3 linked regions of the Homo sapiens genome follow. The protein of the gene in region 2 purifies or fractionates together with the protein of the main gene of each other region. This does not show direct contact. Each region holds a gene or a part of one and is shown on either strand. Other genes may lie near its edges. The genes, in order: ARHGEF6, TMEM154 and LMBR1.

What was found.
Region 1: the proteins of TMEM154 (region 2) and ARHGEF6 purify together in Homo sapiens (co-immunoprecipitation; 2 studies listed by BioGRID and IntAct, with this or other methods). This does not show direct contact.
Region 3: the proteins of TMEM154 (region 2) and LMBR1 purify together in Homo sapiens (affinity purification with mass spectrometry; one large-scale study listed by BioGRID and IntAct). This does not show direct contact.

Annotation. Positions count from the first base shown.
Region 1 is NC_000023.11:136,683,291-136,686,943, reverse strand, and holds part of ARHGEF6 (rho guanine nucleotide exchange factor 6), read left to right. Parts: intron 1-1,120; coding exon 1,121-1,267; intron 1,268-3,653. UniProt on the Homo sapiens protein: Acts as a RAC1 guanine nucleotide exchange factor (GEF).
Region 2 is NC_000004.12:152,645,459-152,649,111, forward strand, and holds part of TMEM154 (transmembrane protein 154 precursor), read right to left. Parts: intron 1,870-3,653; exon of another isoform or gene 1,726-1,869; intron 1,535-1,725; coding exon of another isoform or gene 1,521-1,534; exon of another isoform or gene 1-1,520.
Region 3 is NC_000007.14:156,886,650-156,890,302, forward strand, and holds part of LMBR1 (limb region 1 protein homolog), read right to left. Parts: intron 1-3,653. UniProt on the Homo sapiens protein: Putative membrane receptor.

The sequences.
Region 1 (3,653 bases), on a different chromosome or scaffold from region 2:
TATGTGTACAGTGAATTTATTTCTTTGAGTTTCCATGTAGCTGAAAGGGACAGCAGAGATTTTATAGAAAATATAACCCCAAAATATTATCTTACATTCATTTGGAAACAGTAACAGAACTAACCATGTGCTTATTTTTGTATTCAATTTGGAAGGCATGCTGTTAAATTACTCTAAGATAACCTCACAGTTTCTTAAGCAGTGAGATATATATATATATATATATATATATATGTATATATATATGTGTATATATATATATGTGTATATATATATACACATGTGTATATATATATGTGTGTATATATATATATATATGTGTATATATATATATATATATATATATATACACACACATACACACACATATATATAGAAAGAGTATTCATACCCCACATAGTGTTGGCAAACTGTAATTTTTTCTTGGTTTGAAATTTCAGTATGTCATCATGAAATTCAGTTGTATCTCTTTTTTCCAATCCTTTTAGGAATAAAAACTAATTTAGTATTTTTTTCACAGCAATCTTGGTCCTTAAACAAAGTACAGCAGTGCCTAGGTTTCATTATAAGTTTGATTCACTGTGGCATAAAGAATTTAATTTTCTCTTTCACTATAACTCCAGGAGAAATTTTTTGTTTTTTATTATTTTCAAGATGTTACCTTGTTGAAAATTGAGCATATGTTAGAAATACAATTATTTTGTCACTAAAGCCCTATTTATGCAAAGATAGACAAGGTAAGAGGAGCTAAAGCAGGGGCACCAACCAGTAGATCTGAATCTACCAGGTCCTCACCTGGCTCTGGTCAGTGTGATTTGGCTGCTTGCTTTCCCATATTCTTTACAGGGAGGGAGAAATAAGCTCTTTCTAGCATTATGTTTTGATGCTTTGGCAAAATGAAAAATAGGCCTTCCTCACAAAACCTTTGGGGGCTCAAGCCTAGAGATTTAGGGTAGTGGATCTTTCTGTCTATCAAGAACAGGCCTGGGTCATGGGATTCATGATGAGGAATAGGGACTCAGTGGGAACCAAAGAGTCAGAAGCCACATCTTACTTTGGTCTTATTTTAGTCTATTTCATAAGAATTCCTATTCCATTATGTTCTGCTTTGGTTCTGTAGGGGCAATGTCAAGATCTGAGGAAGAGAAAACAGCTGGAGTTACAGATACTGTCCGAACCTATTCAGGCATGGGAAGGAGAAGATATTAAAAACTTGGGAAATGTGATTTTTATGTCACAAGTAATGGTGCAGTATGGAGCATGTGAGGTAAGGTATTTCAAATCTCAACATTATTTCTTCCATCTTTCGTATTTTTCTTCCTTTTTTTTTTTTTTTTTTGACGGAGTCTTGTTCTGTCACTCAGGCTGGAGTGCAGTGGTGCCATCTTGGCTCACTGCAACCTCTGCCTCCTGGGTTCAAGCAATCCTCCTGCCTGAGCCTCTTAAGTAGTTTTTCTTCCTTGTTCTTCCATCAAAGTCAAATGCTACAACATTCAAATCAGAAGCTGAGCACCTGTTCTTTGTTGAACATTCTGCTAGGTGCTGTGGGAGATAGGAGAAAAGAACAAGCAATGATCCCTGTTTTCAAAGAACTCATTAAAAACAGACTAAAACACAAGTTGCAACTAGCTGACAAACCAAATAGTCAATGTTCGATTTTGCAATCTCAACAAGAGTCCATAGAAGTTCACAGGAGGGAGAGATCAAGAAGACCTTACGGAGACAGGACTTGAGGAGGGGGCACAAAAACAAAAGGGGAGGATTTCGCAAGGCAGAGGTCATTGTTATCTTAGGAGAGAACAGAAATGTGGCTTTGGTTTGCTGCAGCACAGTAAGGAAACCAGCCTGTAGGGAGCAAAAGAAGCAACTTGGCCCTAGTAAAAGATTGATTGAGTCAGGTAGAATTAGACTATGCAGAAGCTTGACATCAGGCAAGAGTAGTTCAGATGGATGCAACAGGCCATGGGAAATAATGAAAGAGTCCACAGTCATAGAACAACACTCCGAAAGGGATGTTTCACACTAATCTGCGACCTATATATGTCAAATGAACTGGAGGGAATGGACGAGAAGCAGAAAGGCCAGCTGGGATGGAAAGTGAGAAGGAGTCCCCTAAGACGGTGGTAACACTGGGAATGGAGCAGAAGGAGCAAATTGGAGGCATCTTTAGAAGGGAAAGCCAACAGGAAGTGGTGCCCCTGGGTTAGAGGAGATGAAGAATATAATTTTAGACCTGTAGATATCTGGGTGGAGATGTCCCATAGGCAGCTGTTAATGTAGTATGGAAATGTGAGTGAGAGGTCAGAGTTAGAGGCAGAGACTTAGATGTCCCTAACAGATGTGCCTTCCTAGGAAGTAAATATCCAGAGAGAAGCCCGGGGGGTGGGGGGAGCTGAAGATGGATTATTTCTTTTAGGAAGGAGCCAGGGAAAGGGAGAAAGGTTGATTATGGCACCTGGTTTGATGTATCGGGTGTTAGAATTGTCTTCCTTCTCCCAAAACATCTTCCTACGCTCTCTGACACGTCTTTGGCGGAGATTCATTACTTTGGGTTAATAAGCAATCTCATTTAAAATGCAAATACCCCAGGGAAGGTTACTGCAGTGAGTCTAACTATTAGTCATTCACACCTTTGGGATAAACCCCTTGGGTGAAGGCAGGAGGAATCAGTGCCAGAAAAAATAAAAAGACAAAGAGGAAGGTAGAGAAGAACTGGGGGAGCATGGTGTCATGGAAATTCCACGAGGAGCATTTGAAAATGGCCAGTGTGCTGACTGCTGCTGAAGGTTCAGAGGGCAAGGAATGTGAAGACCAAGAGGAAGCCATTGGATTTTGCTAGAAGGCAGTTACTGATGACTTTCCAAGAGCAATGGGGGTGCAGTTAGGGATGGATCAATGCAGAGAAAATGAAGGCAGCAAGTAATTTGCCAATAAAATGTCAAGAAATGGGATATTATGCATAAAGGGCCACATGGGGGCAAGCCAAGGTCTGTTAGGATAGGAGGTGTACATATGTTAAAGAAAAAGAGGAACAGCTAGTAAAAGAGAAGAGGATGCTGGGAGAAGAAGAGGTGTCTGTAGAGGAAAACTAAGTGAAACAAAGATGTGAGAGAATGTGGAGCACTTGTTAGAATAGTTAGCCTGGAAGGGTTGCTCTTCTCAAATGGAAGGAAGGAGATGGAGACAGGCATAAGGATAATTGTAGCTAAGATGGCTGGGCATGGAAGGCAAACGTAATTTTTGCGTATACTAATTGCATATCTGTTGAAGGGGCTCACAGCAGCCCTCACGTTTCAAGGTTTCCTCAGTGCCATTAAAAAGTGTATGGGAGGCTGAGGTGGGTGGATCACCTGAAGTCGGGAGTTTGAGACCACCCTGACCAACATGGAGAAACCCCATCTCTACTAAAAATACAAAATTAGCCGGGAGTGGTGGCACATGTGTGTAATCCCAGCTACTTGGGAGGCTGAGGCAGGAGAATCGCTTGAACCCGGGAGGTGGAGGTTGTGGTGAGCCGAGATCGTGCCATTGCACTCCAACCTGGGCAAAAAGAGCGAAACTCCGTCTCAAGAAAAAAAAAAGAAAGTGTATCTACTTTTATGTTTTACATAAATCCAATAATTATCTTGTTCTTAATGACCAAAGCTAATTTT
Region 2 (3,653 bases):
CCTGATGTCCCAGCTGAAGCCCTGTTTCATTTGGCAGGAGAACCAACACATCCAGAGAAATGAGGCAATGATGTTGAGTGGATAGCATAGGCCTGCTGCACCATTCATCATGTGAAACCTATTGAAAAGCAAACCACTTTGTAGGGGCCCACCAAATAGTCAGAGGTTTCTGATCCTTGGCACTTAAAGGCCTCCTATTGTCTGTCCTGGAGAAATGGAGGTCCTCAGTGAAGGAACACAACCAGCAGACACCTGGAACTGAGTTCCTGGCAGCAGTGAGCTGCTGTAATTTCCTGTGGGTTGGCAAGCTTGAATGGCATTGCTAATCCAGGAAAGCTGGGCACAGATGTAAGTTTCATGCCATCACCGCTTGCCTTCCAGGAGCTGCAGGCTATGTCCTCCTGCCCTCCAGTAGGCATCTAAAGCTTCCTGCAGATGCCTGACTCCTCAGAAACTTAGATGGGGGAAAGGAGAATACACACACACACACACACACACACACACACACACACACACACACAGACACCACAAACCCACACTTTCTATCTAAAATATAAAGGCTATTTCCTTAAGGAATTTTAATATAAATAAAGCTCCTACACAATTGAACATCCCTGCAGGTGACCCGTAAAGCTCCTCCTGTTTTGTCACTCCCTCCTCCTCCCTCTCCCTTTTCCCCTGCTGAATAAACCCCTGACTATTTTCCCAGACAGCAAGTGGCTGCATGGCCCCACCGTTGTGGGCATGGATATATCTTTATAATCCGGGTTCCCCACAGGCTTCAGGGTGAGCAAAAGCTAGCCTGCAAGCAGATGAAGGAAAACTTTTAAAAGCCATCACAAAAGTGCTCCAGATGCACCAAATGTGAAGCTCCTGTAATCAGTTTGAAAACAGAGCAAAAAGCTTTCTACGGCCTCATCTTCCCTGCTCCATGGCTATTACCTCTGCTCCAGCCACCATGGCAACAGAAAAACATCTGGGAGGGCACACAAAGAGCAGAGCATTAAACCAGGAGGAAGACCAATTACTTGTCCTCAGCAATCAGGCCCTGCCCGCTCCACTCCACCTGGCCTATATATATTTATGAATAGCCACCTATTCCCTTTGCAACCAGGAGGCAAATGCAGCTCTTACAAAGCTCCATCTCAAACCCCTATTCCATTTTCCCTCCAACAATCCTTCCATTTCATCTCCTCCAACCCACTTTGTCCTCCTCCTTCAGTTCCTACTTCCCCCCCACTTAGCCTGACAGTACTCTCCTCTCAGATCCTCTCCTCTGTGCATTCGATAGTGGGGTTGTCTGGTGGAGGCTAGGGGAGGGCAGGAGCTACAGGAGCCTCTGGCTTCCTTTTCTTGTTTCCACGCTGAGCAGTGAGCAAGAGAAAGAGTCTCTTTCCAGAAGATTTACTGAGTAAGCCAGGCATCATGTAGCCACAGCCTGTTTAAAGGGGTAGTTTATCGCCCGCTGTTTTCCCTGCAGCTCTTTCAGAGAGACCTCACACATCAAGACACTGCAAATTTCATACCAGGAGGTCTAGGAAGAATGAGAGCAGAACATCACGTTACTACATCATGTTTCCCTTTCCCTGAACATGAAATGGACAAGCCCAAAGGAAAAAGTAATTTCCAATCAGATGAAGTGTTCTAAAAGTTTTGGCCAAGTCCTCTCCCATTGTCAAATTTAAAGACTTATTTCCTAGTATAGTATAACAGACCAGGCTCTACCCAAGTGCAGTAAGAAACAGTATGTCTGCTTCTAACTTCCCAGGGGACATAGTGTGCAGGTGTCCATGCTCTCCTATAAAGCATTTCTGTGGGAGCTTTCCAAGCAAAACGCTGGTATGACCTTCCATGATAGTTGTATTTTACCTGAAAAAAAATCAAATTTTGCTCATGTAAATATTCTGCTTTTATTAACTTTTAGCATTCAGTTTTTCTGAAAAGTTGTCCATCTGTTAAGCAGTTAGTGATCACGTCTGTGTTAAAGCATTGGCTGATAAGAGAAAAAAATTCAAATAAAACTCTCCATCAAAAACTTTTGTGATAAGCCAATTGTTTTGAAATGCTAAGTTTTCTCTGTTGTTTTTTTTAAAGTTAGGCATATTTAAGGTAAAAATAATGTACCAATTTTTAGTAAGGATAATGTACAAATTTGACTTTCCCTCTGAGCGTAGATGTTCTTTAATAAACATTCTAATGTTCTTTAATTAAGTCACTTATTCAACAAACATATACAAGCAGCTAGTGTGTGTTGGGCTAGGCGTTGAGTTAGGTAAAGGGATGATAATAAGCTAGCACTTAGCACTTATGCCAGGTACTGATTTTTTCTAAGTGATTTGCCTATATAAACCATTTAATTCTCACAACTCTATGAGGTGGGTATTGAATTTGCCCATTTTACAGATGAAGAAACTTAATCAGAGAGTCACGGTGCCAGGAAGTGCAAGCCAACCAAGCAGTGTGTGTGGTTTGAGTCTGGACTCTCAACCTCAATGCCACACTGTCACACAAGACAAATAAGACTAGCTCTTGGTTCTCCTGGACCTTAACGACCACATCACCCAGAAAGAAAAGAAGAAAAAAGAGAAGGAAGGAAGGAAGGGAAACAAGTCACCAACTTATGACAATGTGAATACTGTGAACAAAGAGTGTGAACAAAGTATTCTGAGAGCACAGAAGAGATGGTAATTAATTTTTCCTAGGGGAGGATTATTCAAGGCTTCCTAAAAACTGGGCCCTAGCAGGGGGGCGTGGTGGCTCACACCTGTAATCCCAGTGCTTTGGGAGGCTGAGGTGGGAGGATCACTTGAGCCTAGGAGTTTGAGACTTGCCTGAGCAACATAGCAAGACTCCATCTCTACAAAACGTTTTTTAAAAATGTCAAAAACTACTCAGGCATGGTGGCACAGGCCTGTGGTACCAGCTACTCTGTAGGCTGAGGTGGGAGGATCACTTGAGCCCAGGAGTTTGAGGCTGCAGTGAGCTATGATTGTGCCACCGCATTCCAGCCGGGGTAACAGAGCAAGGCCCTGTCTCTTAAACAAAACAAAAACAGACCTGGGCCCTGGAAAAAGGGATGGCAGTTTGCCAAGCAGACAGGAAGAAAATTCCAGACAGAAGAAATGGTATCAACCAGGCATGGAGGCATCCTGAAAGTCAAGTCAAGTTCTGGGAATAGCAAATACTTCAAGTGTTGTTAGAGTGGAGGATGCATGGACCATGTCTGAGGTTGAGGCTGGCTCTCGCTTGTAAATGGCTTTTGAACCTTGAGACTTTCACAATGAAATTCAATGAAAAATCAATTTCTGGATTTGGAGCCTAAGAGCCTCACCATGTGAGTGGATACCTCCAACATCCCCCCACCCCTTGAGTCCATTAGGTAAAACCAGTCATGGTTTGGGGAAGGAAATTATGACTTTTCCTGAATTTTAAAAAATTTAAAAAGCTCTGTTTGCTTTTTTTTCTTAAGCTTAGAAAGAAGCCTCCATATGACCATGTTATTAGGAAGTCCTGAAATTTCAAGCAGTGGAGAAACATGTATTTCCCACTTCTTTGGAATCTATTATATGGGCCTCTGCCATGAAAGGAAATACTCTTCGGGGCTTCTTCCCCAGCTCACATTTGCCTCATCTGCTGACTGTGAAAGATTCCTC
Region 3 (3,653 bases), on a different chromosome or scaffold from region 2:
TGAGCTGCAGTTATCTTAATATTGCTTATCTGGAGGCCAGTGCTTGTTTAGCCGCTAGAAAAAAAGAAACACCTTGAGGCAGTTAGAACCAGTTTATTCTTTAAGGGGATGCTTTACTTAACCCTTGCCTGGCATGGCCCTACATTTTGTTCACAGTTGGGTATTTTATTGCCACAAAGAGTCTGTTCTCTCAGTCTTCAGATCTCTATTTTAACATTAATGCTGGTCAGCTGTGTTTAAACCTCAAAAGGGAGGGGGTATACTGAGGCGTGTCAGATGTCCCATCCCATTCTGGTTGGGAATTCAGTTTTTAAGGTTTCCTGGGGTCCCCTTAGCCAAGAGAGGGTATACTCAGTTAGCTGGCAGCCTTAGGATTTCATAGCTAGCTCTCAAAAGAAAGGAAATCAATCATTACTACCTGATACTAATAGCCAAAGTCAAATATGATCACTAAAGCAACTGACAAGAGAACTATGAGATATTCATAATACAAAAGACAAAATTATTACATGAGTATTTAAAAGTTAAACACTAGGCTGGGCGCGGTGGCTCACGCCTGTAATCCCAGCACTTTGGGAGGCCGAGGCGGCAGATCACGAGGTCAAGAGATTGAGACCATTCTGGCCAACATGGTGAAACCCCGTCTCTACTAAAAGTACAGAAATTAGCTGGGTGTGGTGACGCTCGCCTGTAGTCCCAGCTACTCGGGAGGCTGAGGCAGGAGAATTGCCTGAACCCGGGAGGCGGAGGTTGCAGTGAGCCTTGAGATTGTGCCACTGCACTCCAACCTGGCGACAGAGTGAGACTCCATCTCAAAAAAAAAAAAAAAAAAAAAAGTTAAACACTATATTGTACAAAAAAATTAATTCAAAATGGATCAGACCTAAACCTAAGAGCTAAAACTATACAACTCTTAGAGGAAAACCTTCATGATGCCAGTTGGTGATGATGCCAGTTGGTGATGAATTCTTGGATATGACACAAAAAAACACAGGCAACAAATGAAAAAATAGATCAATTGGACTACAAAATTAAAAACTTTTGTGCATCAAAGGACACTAGCAATAGAGTAAAAAGGCAACCCTACAGAATGGGCGAGAAGTGTTTGCAAATCACATGTCTGATAAGGGGTTAATATTCAGAATATATAAAGAACTCCTAAAACTAAACAACAAAAATCAAGCAACTCAATTCAAAAACAGGCAAAGAACAGATATTTCTCCAAAGAAGATGTCCATATAGTCAATAAGCACATGAAACAATGCTGAACTTCACTTATAATTAGGGAAATGCAAATCAAATCCAGCATCAGATACCATTTCACATCCATTTTAAAAAAAAGAAGAAAAACAGAAAACAATGTGTGTTGGTGAAGATGCGGAAGAACCAGAAACTCTGGCTCCTTGCTAGTGGGAATATAAAATGGTACAGCCTCTGTGGAAAATGGTATGGCAGTTCCTCAAAAAAATTAAACATAGAGGCCGGGCGTGGTGGCTCACGCCTGTAATCCCAGCACTTTGGGAGGCTGAGGCGGGCGAATCACGAGGTCAGGAGATCAAGACCTTCCTGGCTAACATGGTGAAACCCCGTCTCTACTAAAAATACAAAAAGTTAGCTGGGCGTGGTGGCGGGTGCCTGTAGTCCCAGCTACTCGGGAGGCTGAGGCAGGAGAATGGCATGAACCGGGGGGGCGGAGCTTGCAGTGAGCCGAGATTGAGTCACTGCACTCCAGCCTGGGAAACACAGCGAGACTCTGTCTCAAAAAAAAAAAAAAAAAAAATTAAACATAGAATTATCATATGATCCAGCAATTCTACTTCTGAATTGAAAGCAGGGACTCTAATAGATATTTGCATACCCATGATCACAGCAGCATTATTCACAATAGCCAAAAACAGAAACAACTCAGGTCAATTGATGAATGAATGGGTAAGCAAAATACAGTATACACAAAAAGAAAATATTATTCAGCCTGAACAAATTCTGGGCCAGGCACGTTGGCTCCCGCCTGTAATCCCAGCACTTTGGGAGGCCAGGGTGGGTGCATCACTTGAGGCCAGGAGTTCAAGAACAGCCTGGGCAACATAGCAAAAACCCCATCTCTACAAAAAATTAAAAAATGAGGCCAGGCACAGTGGCTCACACCTGTAATCCCAGCACTTTGGGAGGCTGAGGCAGGTGGATCACCTGGGGTCAGGAGTTCAAGACCAGCCTGGCCAACATGGTGAAACCCATCTCTACTAAAAATACAAAAATTAGCCAAGTGCGGTGGCGCATGCCTGTAATCCCAGCTACTCGGGAGGCTGAGGCAGGAGAATTGCTTGAACCAGGGAGGGAGAGGTTGCAATGAGCCGAGATCACGCCACTGCACTCTAGCCTGGGCAACAGAGAAAGACTCTGTCTCAAAAAAAAAAAAGAAAGAAAAAGAAATTTTGACACATGCTACAACACAGGTGAACTTTGAAGGCATTATGCTAAGTGAAATAAGCCAGATAGAAAAGGACAAATATTGTATGGTTCAACTGGGAATAGTCAGATTCATATAGGCAGAACCAGCAGCTGGAGAGAGTGAAGAATGGAGAGTTACTGTTTCATGGGTATCAAGTTTCAGTTGATGAAAAAGATCTGGAAATGGATAGTGGTGGTGGTTGCACAACAATGTGAATGTATTTAACGCCACTGAACTGTATATTTAGATATGGTAAATTGCATGTTATATATATATATCTTATTATGATAAAAAAGTTAAGCAATTATAGCATTATGTAGCAAAATCAGAAAGAATTGAATAATTTTAAAAATTGGCAACAGGTCTTAGAGAAAAAGTATTTACATTCACTCTAAATATAAATCATTTGAGAAAGAAATGCCAAAGACTGGGAACCCTGAGCCTGGTCACTGTCTGCGCTGGTTCTGTAGAAGATGGAGTAGACTCAACCAGCCAGGGGTACTGGGTTGAGGGAAACAGGTGAGGAGAGTCAGAACTAAAGAACTCCATAATCGGTACCAAAACCGTTTTCAGGGGAGTAGACGAAGCTCTGGACTGTTTTACAATGTGTCCCTTTCTCAACCCAAATTCTAGAATATCTAATTAATTAAAAGTAAAGCCAAAGAGCAGGAGGATCACTTGAGCCCAGGAGACAGGTCTGGGCAACACGGTGAGACCTCACCTCTACAAAAAATTAAAAGATTAGCTGGGTCTGTTAGTGCACACCTGTATGATTCAAGCCTGTAGTCCCAGCTACTTGGGAAGCTGAGGTGGGAGGATCGCCTGAGCCTTGGAAGTCAAGGCTGCAGTGAGCCATGATTGCGCCACTGCACGACAGCCTGGTCAACAGAGGGAGAACCTGTCTCAAATTTTAAAAAATAATAAAACTAAAGACAAATAGACCAATAAAACCACATAAAGTCCAAAATTAAACCCTATGAATATACAGTTACCTATCTGTGACAAAAGTCCTAAATAGTGCTGAAGCAATTGGACATTCCTGTGGGAGAAAAAAATATGACTCCTACCTTGCACCAGACACAAAAAAATAAATTCGAAATAGATTGCAAATTTAAATGAGAAGAGTAATTCAATAAAGCATTTAGAGAAAAGAAGAAGAGAACATCAGTCTTAGAGTAAGGAGAGATTTCTTAATCGGGACATT